Linked DNA regions of Homo sapiens: region 2 is linked to region 1. Evidence: fine-mapped expression QTL. Tissue or cell type: whole blood. Region 1 holds a variant in brackets; the other region holds the start of a gene. All regions are shown on one strand. Distances are between the middles of the regions.

What was found. PIP is the estimated chance that this variant, and not a neighbour inherited with it, causes the effect.
Region 2: SPINT2 starts here. The variant in region 1 is fine-mapped to the expression of SPINT2 in whole blood (TOPMed, PIP above 0.99).

The regions. Positions count from the first base shown.
Region 1 is chr19:38,283,855-38,292,027 of GRCh38, forward strand. It overlaps SPINT2 (serine peptidase inhibitor, Kunitz type 2), which reads left to right. Exons shown (of 7, transcript NM_021102.4): 3 at 4,022-4,081; 4 at 5,284-5,337; 5 at 6,265-6,426; 6 at 6,683-6,721; 7 at 7,986-8,173. The coding sequence ends at 8,152. Among named protein-coding and RNA genes, the nearest start is that of C19orf33, 16 kb to the right of the region's middle. The variant C/T (reference allele first, on the strand shown) is at 3,482.
Region 2 is chr19:38,259,677-38,267,849 of GRCh38, forward strand. SPINT2 (serine peptidase inhibitor, Kunitz type 2) reads left to right here and starts at 4,897. Exons shown (of 7, transcript NM_021102.4): 1 at 4,897-5,322. The coding sequence starts at 5,217. RefSeq lists enhancers at 1,513-2,450, 2,451-3,387, 3,528-4,445 and a silencer at 4,602-4,921.

The DNA of each region.
Region 1 (8,173 bases):
TTTTTGAGACGGAGTCTTGCTCTGTCGCCCAGGCTGGAGTGCAGTGGCGCGATCTTGGCTCACTGCAAGCTCCGCCTCCCGGGTTCACGCCATTCTCCTGCTTCAGCCTCCTGAGTAGCTGGGACTACGGGCACCCACCATCACGCCCAACTAATTTTTTGTGTTTTTAGTAGAGACATGGTTTCACCTTGTTAGCCAGGATGGTCTCGATCTCCTGATCTTGTGATCTGCCTGCCTCAGCCTCCCAAAGTGCTGGGATTACAGGCATGAGCCACTGCGCCCAGCCCCTGCTTTTTTTTTAGACAGGGTCTCACTGCAGCCTCCACCTCCTGGGCTCAAGCAGAACCTCCCACCTCAGCCTCCTGAGTAGTTGGGACTACAGGCACATGCCACCACACCTTGCTCATTTTGAAATTTTTTATAGAGGCGGGGGTCTCCCTATGTTACCCAGGCTGGTCTTGGACTCTTGGCCTCAAGTGATCCTCCCACCTGGGCCTTCCAAAGGGCTGAGATTACAGGCGTGAGCCACTGTGCCCAGCCAGATTTTGCTCTTTAGAGACAATTTATTAACTGGAATGTGGATACTTTCCTCTCTTTATTAGTTCTTGACAGTGGAATCTGGGTGACGTTTTAAAAAGCAGAAGAAACAGGCACCGTGTGAATGTCCTGGTGGCCGTACAGTGGTTTCACAGCAGACCCTCACTCCTCCTCTTCCCAGAAAGGGAGCAAAACAACAGGGCAGAGCTGGGGCCAGCGTGACCCAGCTTCCTTTCTCCCACTTTACTAAGTGCAAGTTTCAGAGCAGACCAAAGAGGAAGTAGCCTTGCCTTCTTGAGCAGAGGCTTTTTGATCCACTCCGACAGGGCTGCCCCTCTTGTTCCCTGGGTATTTGGGTTATTTTATTTTATTTTGAGACAGAGTCTTGCTCTGTCGCCCAAGTTGGAGTGCAGTAGAGCAATCTCGGTTCACTGCAACCTCAGCCTCCTGAGTAGCTGGGATTCCAGGTGTCCACCACTACGCCTGGCTAATTTTTGTATTTTTAGTAGAGATGGGGTTTCGCTATGTTGGCCAAGCTGGTCTTGAACTTCTGGCCTCAGGTGATCTGCCTGCCTTAACCTCGCAAAGTGCTGGGATTACAGGTGTAAGCCACCGCACCTGGCCGCTATTTGGGTTATTTTTAATTGTGGGACAAGTGACTTGAATAGCTCACCCAGCCAAGTTACCGATCAAGTTAAAACAAACATACGTCCTGGAATCCATCCTCTTTGCGGCCCTCACCTGCGAGGAGTTCTGTGGAATCAAGGTAATTTTGACCCTGATAACCTCACAGTTTAAATTAAAACCTAAACCTCCCAGCAGCGTGCCCTGGCTCTTAGCTGAGTGAGAAGGACTTCCTGAGAGCTGGTGGTGATGAGACATTGGCCCTTTGGGGCTGCTCCATCCCGAGTGTTCCAGAGACCCGAGGGTTTGGCCATCCAAATCCTATGTTAAAGATTTTCACTTTTTTCTTTTTTTCTCGCTTAGTCGCCTACCAGGCTGGAGTGCAGTGATGTGATCTTGGCTCACTGCAACCTCCACCTCCTGGGTTCAAGTGATTCTCGTGCCTCAGCCTCTCAAGTAGCTGGGACTACAGGCGTGCACCTCCACACCTGGCTAATTTTTGTGTATTTGGTGAAGATGGAGTTTCACCATGTTACCCAGGCTGGTCTCAAACGCTTGAGCTCAAGCAATCTGCCTGCCTCCCAAAGTGCTAGGATTACAGGCGTGAGCCACTGTGCCCAGCTAAACATTTCACTTTAACTGAAAAAACAAACAATTACACTGGCCTTTAAGTAAAAAATAAATAAAAATATTTTCAGCGGCACTCCCCCTAACATGTTTTTTTGATGACTTGGTGTTGTCTCTGTGAGCCACCGTTGACCCAGTTACTGTATTTCTATCGTCAGCTGTGATTCATTATGAAGGAGGACTTGGGAGAACTATCTTTTGCTACCTTTTCTGAGCTATCCCAGTCAAGAGTTGCCTTTAGCAAATGTATCTGTCCATCCTGGCTGTTTGTTACCTCCTCAGGAAGGGAGCTGAAGTGTTGAGAACTCAGGCAGTAGACAGTGAACATAGCCAGGGGACATGAGTGGCTGTGTGTTCCTGGGAGCAGGCAGGTTAGCTGTCTCCCTAGAGTCCGGCCCCGCCTTGCAGGTCCAGAAAGCACATATTGGCATCTGACTGGCTGCAATGTGTGTCTCTCGAGGCGCTCCCATGTGAGTCTGTAAAGAGCTAAACACTGCCAGGGCTGCTAGTGCCTGGGGTCCTTTGCCGGCATATTCTCTCCCAGGCAGGCAGGCTCTGTGGGAAGGCAAGTGAGAATGAGACTGCCAGTGTATTAATTCATCATGAGAACCAGGACCGCCCCGGGGAGCAGGCACTCGTGTCCCCGGGCCCACGCCTTTAGTCCGCATAGGCAAGTCTCTAGTCCAGTTGCCAGAAGACTGCTTGATGAAGAGAGAGGCAGAACGCGGGGAGCTGGTTTGCAAGGTGACCGTTTAATAGCATCAGGCTAGGCCAGGCCCGAGGATGCGGAGGAGCCAGGGTTCCCTCCATCTTGGACGAGGTGTGGGAGATAAGCGCTGTGTAAAATGTATCATGTGGGCCGGGTGCGGCGGCTCACGCCTGTAATCCAGCACTTTGGGAGGCCGAGGTGGGCAGACCAAGAGGTCAGGAGATCGAGACCATCCTGGCTAACACGGTGAAACTCCGTCTCTACTCAAAATACAAAAAAAAATTAGCCGGGCCTGGTGGCGGGCGCCTGTGGTCCCAGCTACTCCAGAGGCTGAGGCAGGAGAATGGTGTGAACCCGGGAGGTGGAGCTTGCAGTGAGCTGAGATCGCGCCAGAGCACTCCAGCCTGGGCGACAGAGCGAGACTCCGTTTCAAAACGAAAAATTTGTCATGTTAACCTTTAAAAAAAGTGTCGTGTTTTGTTTTGTTTTTCTCCCCCCAAAGAGATTAGGTCTTTTTATGTTGCCCAAGCTGGTCTCAAACTCCTGGCCTCAAGTGATGCCCCCCACCCTTCACCCAGTGTAAGCACTGGTATTACAGTTGAATTAGTTAGATGAGTTGATACAGTTAAGCAATTATTTGGCCCTGGAAGTCACTGTGTTTTGATTGTTTGTTTCTTTCTTTGAGACGGAGTTTCACTCTTGTTGCCCAGGTTGGAGTGCAATGGTCAATGGTGTGATCTCGGCTCACTACAACCTCTGCCTCCCAGGTTCAGGCGATTCTCCTGCCTCAGCCACCCGAGTAGCTGGGATTACAGGCATCTGCCATCACGCCTGGCTAACTTTTTGGGTTTTTTTGTTTGTTTTTTGAGACGGAGTCTCACTCTGTTGCCCAGGCTGAGTGCAGTGGTGCGATTTCGGCTCACTGCAACCTCCGCCTCCCGAGTTCAAGCAATTCTCCTGCCTCAGCCTCCGGAGTAGCTGGGA[C/T]TACAGGCGCGTGCCACCACACCCGGCTAATTTTTTGTATTTTTAGTAGAGATGGGTTTTCGCAGTGTCGGCCAGGATGGTCTCGATCCCTGACCTCGCGATCTGCCCACCCTGGCCTCCCAAAGTGCTGGGATTACAGGCGTAAGCCACCGCACCCGGCCCTAACTTTTGTATTTTTAATAGGTTTTGCCATGTTGGCCAGGCTGGTCTCAAACTCCTGACCTCAGGTGATCCACCTGCCTTGGCCTCCCAAAGTACTGGAATTACAGCCATGAGCCACCACACCCGGCCAAGTCACTGTCTTTTTAAGGTCACTTTGCACATCTCTGCTCTGATTCCCTGCAAGTTAATCTTAAGTTTCCTCTTCGGGAGGCAATCTTGGTTCCTTATTTCCAAGTTGTGGTCTGGCATGCACATTGAAGGTCCCATGTAAAGGAGAAGTGGATGCTGTGGTGAGAGGCGCACAGGGCCAGCTCATTCTTTGTCCCTGGCAGTCTCTCGAAAGCTCTTTCACTGTGCTGTTTCTTTGTCCCCTTGCAGAGAATGCCACGGGTGACCTGGCCACCAGCAGGAATGCAGCGGATTCCTCTGTCCCAAGTGGTAGGTTCTTAAAGAGACCCGCGATGGAGTGAGGCCACCGGATGGGTCATTGTGAAAGGACACTTGTCATTTGGGAACTGTCACAGGCTTCCCTCTCATGGTTCTGTTTACTCAAAATTGGCAAACCGGGGGCTCTGCCTGGGCTGCCGGCTTCTGGCTCCAGCATCCTTATGGGGGAGTTTATACTGTCCAGCTGACACAGGGGCCGGGGATCCTGCAGCACTTCCTGGCTGGCCCCCATCTCCTCCTGGAGGATGGGATGGAGGTGGCTGCTGCCCATGAGGCTCAGGCCCCTCCTTGCTGTGCGGGCCTCCAGCTGCTCTGCTGACCCCACTCCCCACCCACCCTCCTGTCTGCCTGTTCTGTCTCCTCTGCTTCCTTTGCTCCCTGTTGCCATCGCTGTCCCCTGCCCCGTGGGCATCCTCTGTCCTCTGCCACCCCCGCCTCCCCGCCACTGCAGCTTGTGATCTCAAGATGTGTGTTAGCTTGCTTTGTAGTGCTGGCGGCTGCTGCCCCATTCCTCCTTTATGGTTTAAGGACTCTGCATCGGGCGCCTGGGGTGAGTGGTCCCGATGCACTACCAGGTAGCAAATGCACCCTCGGGGCAGACCTCAGGCCATGGACTCTGGGAGGCTGCTGTGGAGGGGGTACTGCACCGCACCCCTGCTGGAGGATGGGACTCCCCCGGCAGCTGCTACCCACCGAGTGCACTGTAGCTCAGCAGCTGTTGGGCCGGCTGGCTTGCAGAGTGCTGGGGCGTTAGGGTGGTCACTTTCCAGCTTTGCTAGGCCTGGAGTCCTGTGCCTGTCCTGGCTTTGCTCTGCCTGGCTCCCTGTTTATCCTCTGCTAGCCCCCCCACACACCAGCTCTGGTTTCCATCTTGTTGGAGAGGAACATGTCCCCCTCACTGTATTAGAAAGTGTGAACAAGACCGTGTTCCCTATAATATTAGGAGCTGTGGCAGGCTTGGTTTCTATAGGAACCCTGAGGTGGCGGCAGGGCCACCACATCCAGCACTCTCAGTGTGTGCGTAGAGCCCATTAGGGCTGGGGTGACGTGGCAGAGCCGGCCATGGAAGGGGCTACACACCCCTTCTTAAAGGCGTGTCCACACTCCTCAGTGGGCCCTTCCAGACCCAGACCCAGCTAGGCCTGTGTCCTGTGTCCGGCCCAGCCTCCCTAACACAGATGTTTGTGTTTCAGCTCCCAGAAGGCAGGATTCTGAAGACCACTCCAGCGATATGTTCAACTATGAAGGTAAAACTCCAAAGAGGCCAGGTGCGGTGGCTCACACCTGTAATCCCAGCGCTTTGGGAGGCTGAGGTGGGCGGATCACGAGGTCAGGATATCAAGACCATCCTAACATGGTGAAACCCTGTCTCTACTAAAAATACGAAAAATTAGCTGGACGTAGTGGCATGCACCTGTAGTCCCAGCTACTCAGGAGACTGAGGCAGGAGAATTGCTCAAAGCCTGGGAGGCGGAGGGTGCAATGAGCCAAGATTGCGCCACTGCACTCCAGCCTGGGCAACAGAGTGAGACTCTGTCTCAAAAAAAAAAAAAAAAAAAAAAAAAAAAACTCCGAAGAAACTTATATATGGGGCAAAACATGTATTCTTAGTTGGGTATTGAGAGACACTTGCGGATTTTCACTGAGGAAGTTGTAGAGCAGGGCTCTCCCCTCCCCAGGTGGTGGCAGCCCCCTGAGGTTGGGGTCAAGGTGACAGGCCCCACGTGGATGCCGCCAGCAGTGGGAAGGAGGCTGCGCCTGTGGAGATGTGCGTTAGAGGCGTAGCCTGGCACGTGGCTCTGCAATTTACATTGTCCCTGAACCTCTCGCCAGCGGCTTGGCTGTGGGCAAGTGACTGTTGCCCCGCCTCAGAGTTCCCATGTATAAAATGAAGGGTCCCAGATAGGTCTCATAGAGACTCAGCCACTGCATGTAAAAGGCCTAGAACAGGGCTTGGCAGAGAGCAGCCTTCAAAGCTCCGAAGCCGTCACCTGGACCCAAGGAGCAGCGCGTCAGAGCCGCTGCACTGGTCTTGGGTGTAATTTACAGGCTTCTTTACCAGAGAGATGTTTCTCCGTCTGCTGGAGCCGCAAGCCTCCTCAGGCACTTTCTGGCTTGCTTCCCCTCCTTGCGGGCCCTACTAATTTGTATTCCCTGGGCTGTCTTACTCCTAGAATACTGCACCGCCAACGCAGTCACTGGGCCTTGCCGTGCATCCTTCCCACGCTGGTACTTTGACGTGGAGAGGAACTCCTGCAATAACTTCATCTATGGAGGCTGCCGGGGCAATAAGAACAGCTACCGCTCTGAGGAGGCCTGCATGCTCCGCTGCTTCCGTAAGTCTGCAGCCCCTCAGCCCAGGAAGCCCTGCCCTTGAGGACCCCGGTCCATCTCCCCATCCCTAAAATATGAAGGCCTTGGAAATGCTGTTCTTGGGCCCACCAGGGCAGCAAGGCCTCTAAGCCCCAGAAAAGCTGGAAGAAAGCCCCTCAGAAAGAGCTCCCCATGGAGGCCCTGGCTGAGGGGATCCCCTGCGGCAGCTCTGTGGAATGGGGGCTGTGAGCTGACCTCAGGCTGTGTGTTCTCTTCCAGGCCAGCAGGAGAATCCTCCCCTGCCCCTTGGCTCAAAGGGTAAGTGGCCCCTTACCCTCCTCCTGCCATCAGCCTGCCTCCTCCCTTCCTTGACTGAGCTCAGCCCTGCCCAGCTGTGGTTTACATTATCCTTCACTGTGAACATCATCTTGGCAGAAAGTCATGTTTCTGCGTGAGAATGGCGAGGTGGTGGTTTGTCCCACCGTTCAGTGTACACAGTTGGGGCTGGAGTGAGTCAGTCACAAGGCAGGCCCTGCCCAGGCGGCGTGGGTGACTGGGGATGAGGTCTTCCTGTTGAGCATTTGAGGACTGCTGCACACGGGCCTGAGGCTGGCCTGAGGTGTGGAGGGAGCGCTGCTATGTGGGGCATAAGAGTTGGTCACGGGTGACAGGACGGAGGACCACGGGCCAGGGTGTTTCCCAACACAGTCTGGTCTGAGCGGGAGGCCAGGCCTCTGGCCTGTGTTTCTGAGCTTGAGTTGCAGGTGATAATGTTGGCACAAAAGACCTGCCATGCCAGTCTGGCCTCTTTCTCCACCTGTTTCCCGGTGAAGGAGCCAGGACCTGGCCTGCGAGTCTGTCCTGTTCTAGCAGTGAAGCCTGGTTTGCCAGGCACGGGGCTGGGAAGCAAGCAGTCTGGGTCTGGAGGGTGGCCCCAAAAAGGCCAACTCTGCAGCTCCACAGCCACATGGGGGAGGCTGCCACAGGTCACACTCCTTAGCCGGATCCCCTCCTGAAGAAAAGCATCTGAGCTGACCAGCGAGACTGCAGTGGGGCAGACACTATTAAATTTGCTGGCACAGCTCTGAGTACCCCCTCGCTTCCACCCTGACTTCATCCCGCAGTAGCTCTCAGCCCTCCCAGCCCCTGCAGGGCCACGTCTTTCTCTATTGCCGGTCAGCGTGTGTGTGCACAAAGCCCCTAAGGTTTCATGTGTACACACCGGTGCTAAGTGTTTTTTACACCCTTGTGCATCTCTCGGCCTGGGGCTCCTGTGCAGGTTGCCCTGAGAGTTGGGTTTTTAGTTCAAAAAGAAGGAACACAGATGACTACTCTGCTGGCGACACGGCCACTCTGCTGGCACGCACATAGCATGGCGCCTCCTTTTTTGGGGGACTCTCCTTGGTGGCATCTCTGGCAGGCTGTGTCCTCTCCAGCTGCAGTTCTGGACCCTGTCTGGGTTGGGGAGGGGCATTTGGTCCTCAGGCTGAGCCCACCTGGATTCCCCAGGCCCTTGGTGAGCGCCACTCTGGCTGCAACTCCCCTTGCCTGGCCCGTCCTGAGGCCCCTCTCTCGTCCTCAGTGGTGGTTCTGGCGGGGCTGTTCGTGATGGTGTTGATCCTCTTCCTGGGAGCCTCCATGGTCTACCTGATCCGGGTGGCACGGAGGAACCAGGAGCGTGCCCTGCGCACCGTCTGGAGCTCCGGAGATGACAAGGAGCAGCTGGTGAAGAACACATATGTCCTGTGACCGCCCTGTCGCCAAGAGGAC
Region 2 (8,173 bases), 24 kb before region 1:
GAGTTGGAGTCACCTCAGGCTGGAGTATAGTATTGTGATCATGGCTCACTGCAACCTCTGCCTCCTGGGTTCAAGAGATTCTCCTGCTTCAGCCTCCTGAGTAGCTGGGACTACAGTTATACACCACTGTGTCCGCTTACTTTTTATATTTTCAGTAGAGATGGGGTTTCACCATGTTGGTCAGGCTGGTCTCGAACTCCTGACCTCAGACGATCTGCCCGTCTTGACCTCCCAAAGTGCTGGAATTACAGGCATGAGCCACCATGCCTGGCCTCTAACATTATATATAATGTACTCATTTAATGTATTGTCCATGCCAGGCGTGGTGGCTCACACCTGTAATCTCAGCACTATAGGATGCTGAGGCAGGAGGAGCAATTACATCCAGGAGTTCAAGATCAGCTTGGGCAACATAGTGAGACCCTGTCGCTACAAAAAAAAAAAAAAAAAAAAAAAGCCAGGTGCAATAGTACATGCTTGTAGTCCCAGTTACTCTGGAGGCTGAGTTGGGAGGATCACTTGAGTCCAGGAGATGGAGGACGCAGTGAACTGTGATTGCACCACTGCACTCCAGCCTGGGTGATGGAGTGAGACCCTGTCTCAAAAAGAAAAATGTCATATTTTCTGTTCTGTGCAGTGACAGAAAAAAAAAATTATTGTCTGTTTCCCAACTAGTAGCATACTAAAGGCAGGGGGACAGGACTGGTCCACTTTGGGTACAGGCAAAAAGAGGGTGCACTGTCTGTAGAGAATTTAAAAATAAAAAGCTGACCAAGGCCGGGCATGGTGGCTCATGCCTGTAATCCCAGCACTTTGGGAGGCCAAGGCAGGCAGATCACCTGAGGTCAGGAGTTCAAGACCTGCCTGGCCAACATGGTGAAACCCCATCTCCATAAAAATACAAAAATTAGCCGGGTGTGGTGGTACAAGCCTGTAATCCCAGCTACTTGGGAGACTGAGGCAGGAGAATCGCTTGAACCCGGGAGGTGGAGGTTGCGATGAGCCAAGATCGTGCCATTGCACTGCAGCCTAGGCGACAGACAGAGTGAGACTCCATTTCAAAAAAACTGACCAAAAGTTGGTCTAATTTTTATTTTACTTTGCAGTGACATTTCTAAACAGTGTCAATGATAAAATAGTCCTCCCCAGGGAAGAAACAGAAACAAAAACCTTTTGGTGGTCTGCTTTCTAAACAATTGATGCAATATAAAAAAGGGGGAAAAAAACAATTGATGCAATTACTGTCGGTTTTTTTTTTGTTTTGTTTTTGTTTCATTTTTTGAGACGGAGTTTCGCTCTTGTTGCCCAGGCTGGAGTACAATGGCACTATCTCAGCTCACTGCAACCTCCACCTCCCAGGTTCAAGCGATTCTCCTGCCTCAGCCTCCTGAGTAGCGCGGATTACAGGCATCCGCCACCACGCCCGACTAATTTTGTATTTTTAGCAGACAGGATTTCTCCATGTTGGTCAGGATGGTCTTGAACTCCCGACCTCAGGTGATCCGCTCGCCTCGGCCTCCCAAAGTGCTGAGATTACAGGTGTGAGCCAACCACGCCTGGCCTACTGTCAAGGTTTTTTTTTTGGTGTTTTTTTTTTTTTTTTTTTTTTTTTTTTTGAGACAGAGTCTCGCTCTGTCACCCAGGCTGGAGGGCAGTGGTGCAGTCTCAGCTCACTGCAACCTCCGCCTCCCGGATTCAAGCTATTCTCCTGCCTCAGCCTCCCGAGTAGCTGGGACTACAGGCGCCCGCCACCGCGCCCGGCCTCTTTTTTTTTTTTTTTTTTTTTTTTTTTGAGAACGAGTCTCGCGCCGTCGCTCAGGCTGGAGTGCAGTGGCGCAATGTCGGCTCACTGCAAACTCCACCTCCCAGGTTCAAGCGATTCTCCTGCCTCAGCCTCCCAAGTAGCTGGGACTACATGCGCCCACCACCACGCCCGGCTAGTCTTTTGTACTTTTTTTCAGTAGAGACGGGGTTTCACCGTGTTAGCCCAGATGGTCTCCATCTGCTGACCTCGTGATCCGCCCACCTCAGCCTTCTAAAATGCTGAGATTACAGGCATAAGCCACCGCACCCGGCCCTTCTTTTTTTTTTTTTTTTTTTTGAGACGAAGTCTCACACTGTCGCCCGGGCTGGTGTGCAGTGGGGCGATCTCGGCTCGCCGCAGCCTCCACCTCCCGGGTTCAAGCGATTCTCCTGCCTCAGCCTCTCCAGTGGCTGGGACTACAGGCGCGCGCCACCACGCCCGGCTAATTTTTGTATTTCTAGTAGAGACAGGGTTTCACTATGTTGGCCAGGCTGGTCTCAAATTCCTGACCTCGTGATCCGCCCACCTCGGCCTCCCAAAGTGCTGGGGATTACAGGCGTGAGCCACCTCTTTTTAATGAACTCTGAAGGATGATAAAGGCCAAGGGACAAACATTCCAAGCATCAGGAATGTTGATGCTTGGAATGTTTCTCAGGACAGATATGGAGATGCCCAGGCCTCCCAAAGTGCTGGGGATTACAGGCGTGTGAGCCCGGCCTCTTTTTTTTTTTTTTTTTTTTGAGAACGACTCTCGCGCTGTTGCTCAGGCTGGAGTACAGTGGCACAATATTGGCTCACTGCAAACCCCGCCTGCCGGGTTCAAGAGATTCTCCTGCCTCAGCCTCCCGAGTAGCTGGGACTACATGCTCCCGCCACCACGCCCGGCTAATCTTTTTGATTTTTTCACCGTGTTAGCCAAGATGGTCTTGATCTGCTGACCTCGTGATCCACCCGCCTTGGCCTCCCAAAGTGCTGGGATTACAGGCATGAGCCACTGCGCTCAGCCCTCCTTTTGAGTTTTTGTGTTTAAAGTTCAAAACTGGACAGATGCAGTGGCTCACGCCTGTAATCCCAGCACTTTGGGAGGTCAAGGTGGGCGGATCGTGAGGTCAGAAGTTCGAGACCAGCCTGGCCAACATGGTGAAACTCCATCTCTACAAAAAATACAAAAATTAGCTGGGCGTGGTGGCGGGTGGTGCCTGTAATCCCAGCTACTCAGGAGGCTGAGGCAGGAGAATTGCTTGAATCCAGGAGGTGGAGGTTGCAGTGAGCTGAGATCACAGCATTGCACTCCAGCCTGGGCAACAGGTGAAACTCTGTCTCAAAATAAAATAAAATAAAGAAAGAAGAGGCCTATACCTTCTTCCAAGCCTTGACGGCTCAGCACATACTTCTCTGTTTTCATGCTCAAGCCTAGGTTTAGTAGGCCTGAGTGGCAGTGGGAGATTCAAGTGCTGGGGGAGACCTTTGGCCTCACATTCAGATTCCACCTTGAGTCCCATGATCTCATTGCAAGGTTAGACTTCCATTGTTTAAGGTAAATACCATTTTGATAACTCAGTTACGGCTTTTCATGTATTATTATGCTAGGAGGGAGGCTGAAGAGTGGGAGTGGCCCTGGCTCCTGAACACACTATTCTCTTTCCTGCCTGAAGGCCTCCGCATGTGCCATTCCTGATTCTTGGAATGTTTGTCCCTTGGCCTTTATCATCCTTCAGAGTTCATTATCAAAGCCACCCCTCACAAAGCCCTTCCTCCGCCACCCCATTCAAAAGATCTCTTGTTATTTTCCATCCCAGCCCCTGATTCCTTTTCTGTATAGCACTGTCAAAGTGTTTTCAGGCCAGGTGTGGTGGTTCACGCCTGTAATACAACACTTTTGGAAGGATGAGACAGGAGGATCCCTTGAAGCCAGGAGTTTGAGACCAGCCTGGGCAACATAGCAAGTCCCCTGTCTCCACAAAAAATTTAAAAATTAGCTGGATGTGGTGGCTCACATCTGTAGTCCCAGCTACTTGGGAGGCTGAGGTGGGAGGATCCCTTGAGCCCAGGAGGTCAAGGCTGCAGTGAGCCAAGATCACTCCATTGCACTCCAGCCTGGGCAACAAGAGCAAAACTTCCATCTCAAAAAAAAAAAAAAAAAGAAATAATCTAAAAGTGTTTTCAATAATAATGCATTTATGTTGATTACCTTGTTGGCTATCCTCTACTCGTGTGCCTGCCCCACTCCATTCCCCTTTCTAGAGTCTGTTCACGTAACTCCTCTTCCAGGAAGCCCTCTTTGACTCCCAGGCTTGGTCAGGTGTCTTCTCTGGGTTTCCCCAGGGGCTTCCTTCCTCTCAATTCTGATGCTGCCTGTGCTAAGTATTTGTCTCCATATCTGTCCTGAGAACCTTGGAGCCAGGGCTCGGGGCTGTTTTTGCATGGGCCTATCACCTCCTCCAGGAAGCCCTCCTTGGCCCTCTCTCAGGCTGGATGGGAAAGCTGTCTGGGCTCCCATCATGCCCTGGTTTTCTAGCGACCCAGCCTCTGATCCCTAAGCTTGGCCTTCCCCATCACAGCTTTCATCACTTTGTGCTAAGCTTCCGCTATCACTACTCTGGGCCGTTCCTGTTTGGTGACTCAGGGACCAGTCTGGCATGGCCACCGCTGGGTCCCCAGCATTAAGCCCTGGAGCATGAGCCCAGTGAACTTTGAAATTCAGGAAGGAATTCACAGGAAAGCTGCGGCGAGGCGGGCAGAAAACCACAGGCTTCCAAGAAACGCGTGTCTGCCGCCCCCTCCTCCCACCCTGAGGCCAGTCCTAGAGCGAAGGCCCTCCTCCGACGTCGTCACCAAGCCCAAGGGAAGGGTGGCAGGTGCTCAGCGGGCAGACGCCCCGCCCCGCCCCGCCAGGTTCTGTTGGGGGCGAGGCCCGCGCAAGCCCCGCCTCTTCCCCGGCACCAGGGGCGGGCCCAGGTGCGCCCAGGGCCGGGGAGCGGCCGCGCAGGTGCCTGCCCTTTGCGCCTGCGCCCAGCTCGCCCTGCCTAGCCAGGTGCGCCCCGCCCCCTGCCTGCCCGGCCACCTTCGGGAGCCGCTTCCAATAGGCGTTCGCCATTGGCTCTGGCGACCTCCGCGCGTTGGGAGGTGTAGCGCGGCTCTGAACGCGCTGAGGGCCGTTGAGTGTCGCAGGCGGCGAGGGCGCGAGTGAGGAGCAGACCCAGGCATCGCGCGCCGAGAAGGCCGGGCGTCCCCACACTGAAGGTCCGGAAAGGCGACTTCCGGGGGCTTTGGCACCTGGCGGACCCTCCCGGAGCGTCGGCACCTGAACGCGAGGCGCTCCATTGCGCGTGCGCGTTGAGGGGCTTCCCGCACCTGATCGCGAGACCCCAACGGCTGGTGGCGTCGCCTGCGCGTCTCGGCTGAGCTGGCCATGGCGCAGCTGTGCGGGCTGAGGCGGAGCCGGGCGTTTCTCGCCCTGCTGGGATCGCTGCTCCTCTCTGGGGTCCTGGCGGCCGACCGAGAACGCAGCATCCACGGTGAGGGCCGGGCGGGTAGGCTGGAGGCGGGGCGCAGGGGGCAGAGGCTCGGGGGTCAACGGGGGTCTGAGCAGGGAGAACTGGCGGGGGAGGAAACTGGGGGCTACTTGATGGCGTTCAGCGGGTGTGGTGGAACCAGCCCTGGAGGATTGAGCCTTGAAATGAGGTTTGGGAGCCTTCGACAGCGAAGACGGGCGGAGGAGCGAGGGTTAGGAGAGTTTCCTTCGGGTGGAGGAAGAGTCAAGGGGTATTGACCAAGAAGGCGTGGCACTGCCCCTTCCTGTGGCAAGAACGGGGTGAGGAGCCGAATTGAAGACCAGCCTTCTCCTGGCGGTGGAAAGTTCCATGGCCAAAGCTCAGGGAGAGGCCAGGCCTGTGAGATGGTGGGGGTTGGGTTGGGTGACCTGGTGGCCGTTTTAGACTCGGAAGAAGCCCATCTCACCCCTGCCTCTTTGGAGATTGGACAAGAGCCTCCCCTGAAGTTTTTGTAGTTGAGTTGCAGTAAAGTAGGTGCCCGAGAAGGAGGGAGCAAGAAAGGAAACAAGCTTTGGGGAAGAGGAAGCTCTGCTAAGGCTCGAGAGAGTATTGGCGTTGAGCAGCTGGTGTTGGGGTCTTTGGATTGGCCCTTAGAAGTCGGTGGTGAATAAGGTGATTTAAACTTCTACACTCTTAAGGAAGTGTGGTCTGAAAGGTCTCTTTGAACAAGTGTTGTTATAACCTTAACTGCTTCAGACAAGCACCAGCGTGTTTTGAAAAGAGCTCTCTTGAAAGCAAGAATTCATTGATTCAGCAAAACTTACTGAGGCCCTGCTACGTGTCAGGCACTGGCGCTGGTTATAACAGTTAACTCAGACTAGCTGGGTTCCTGCATTCACAGAGCTAATATTCCAGTGGGAGAGGCAGAGCTAGTGAAGGTTTAAAAAGCACTTGCCATGAGATTAAGTTACTGAGAATTAAATGAACCAGGTGAAGTACACCAACAGGGTGACGTAAGATGTTGGGGGCGGCTTTAGCTCAGGTGGTCGGGGGACGTCTCCGTGAGGAGGGTGACATCTGAGCTCTAACATGAAGAATGAGGCAGTAGCCACACGGAGACCTGGGGGACCAGTGTCCAGTTGCAGGCAATAGAGTACAAAGGCCTTGAAGCTGGAACAAGCTTGGTTGGGTTCAGGGAAAAGACAGAGCCAGCCTGGCTGGAGCAGGCGTGAAGGAGGGGAGGACTGGAGGAGGATGGGAGGTGGGAGAGGTTGGCTGCAGCCAGATGGCCTAGGGCTTTATAGACAGGTGCTGGTGCTTGAACCCGGGAGGCGGATGTTGCAGTGAGCCAAGATCGCGCCACTGCATTCCAGCTTGGGCAACAAGAGTGAAACTCCCATCTCAAAAAAAAAAAAAGAAGGCCGGGTGATGTGGCTCATGCCTGTAATCCTAGAACTTTGGGAGGCCAAGGCGGGCAGATCACTGGAGGCCAGGAGTTCAACACCACCCTAGGCAACATGATGAAACCCCGTCTCTACCAAAAATACAAAAATTAGCTGGGCATGGTGGTGCACACCTGTAGTCCCGGCTACTCGGGAGGCTGAGGCAGGAGAATCGCTTGAAGCCCAGAGGCGGAGGCTGTAGTGAGCTGAGATCAAGCCACTGCACAGCAGCCTGGGCGACACAGCAAGACTCAGTCTCAAAAAAAAAAAAAAGAGCAGGCTAGGTGTGTACCAAGTCATCACCTGTGGTAACTTCTGGGGACTGGTTAATTTCTCTGTGCCCTAGGCAGGAGAAAAAAGTGAATTGGTGGGGAGAGGCTCAGCTGTAGGTGACTGGGAGTCAGGAATGCAGACGTTGATCATTCTTGCAATTCGAACCAGAATTTGGCAGCTCTGCTGGACTTTTTCAGTTTAAGTAATTACGTTAGGATGTACCTCCCAGTTACCTGGCCTCTTGCTACCTCTGGTGCTTACTCTGAGCTGGGACATGGCCTCTTGCTACCTCTGGTGCTTACTCTGAGCTGGGATGTGCCATTTAACCTTTGAAACAGCCGGGTGCGGTGGTGAAGTTACTTGCCTTGCCCGAGGTCACTCGGTAGTAGTAATTGACAAAGCCAGGTCTCACTGCAGAGGCCTTCTCTGTTCAGAGTGGCCTACCTGACTGCTGCTGCCGACTGGACCTACTGACCTTTCAGAAGTACTAGTGTCTGACTGGGTGAACTCATGCCCTCACTCATCGTAAGTTCTGTTTGTTTGAAAGCTTGAACAGCTTAATCGGAGGCAGAAGGCAGTTTTGACTTTTTTTTCCTCGCTCCTTCCTGATTGCTTCTGTTTTCTCCGGAAGCGAGTCATCCACTGGGAGTGTGGTGTTGCTGAAGCTCCATGCAGTGGCTCAGGTGCTGCTGGATGAGTGTGGTGGTGAGGGAGGAGTGAACAGAGAATGTGTGAGGGAGGGAGGATGGGGGTTGGTCAAGGAATTTATTCTGTATGAAAACATGAGGGGGCGGAGGGCCGAGGTAGATGGTAGGGCCAGCAGATTGTTGGAGTTGAGGTTCTGAAGGGAATGAACCAGACAGATAGGATGCAGTGGGTAGTGAGTGAGATGCATGAGAGGGAGGTTCTGAAGAGGTGGCAGTTACTGAGACAGGTCTAGGTGTGACCCTGAGAGGAAGCGGGGGGGCGAGGGTGGGAGGAGATCAGGTGGAGGTCTTGGGACCTAGAGGTCAGAGGACCATCTACCTGGATATAGAAATCTCCAAGAATGATCATAAGAGCAGCGGGAGAGGTGGCAGGCCCGGAGCTAAAGTTGGGAAGGAAGAAGTAGTTGTCTGGGTTGGCAGATAACGTGCCAGGCGGGGTAGTGAATGATTTAC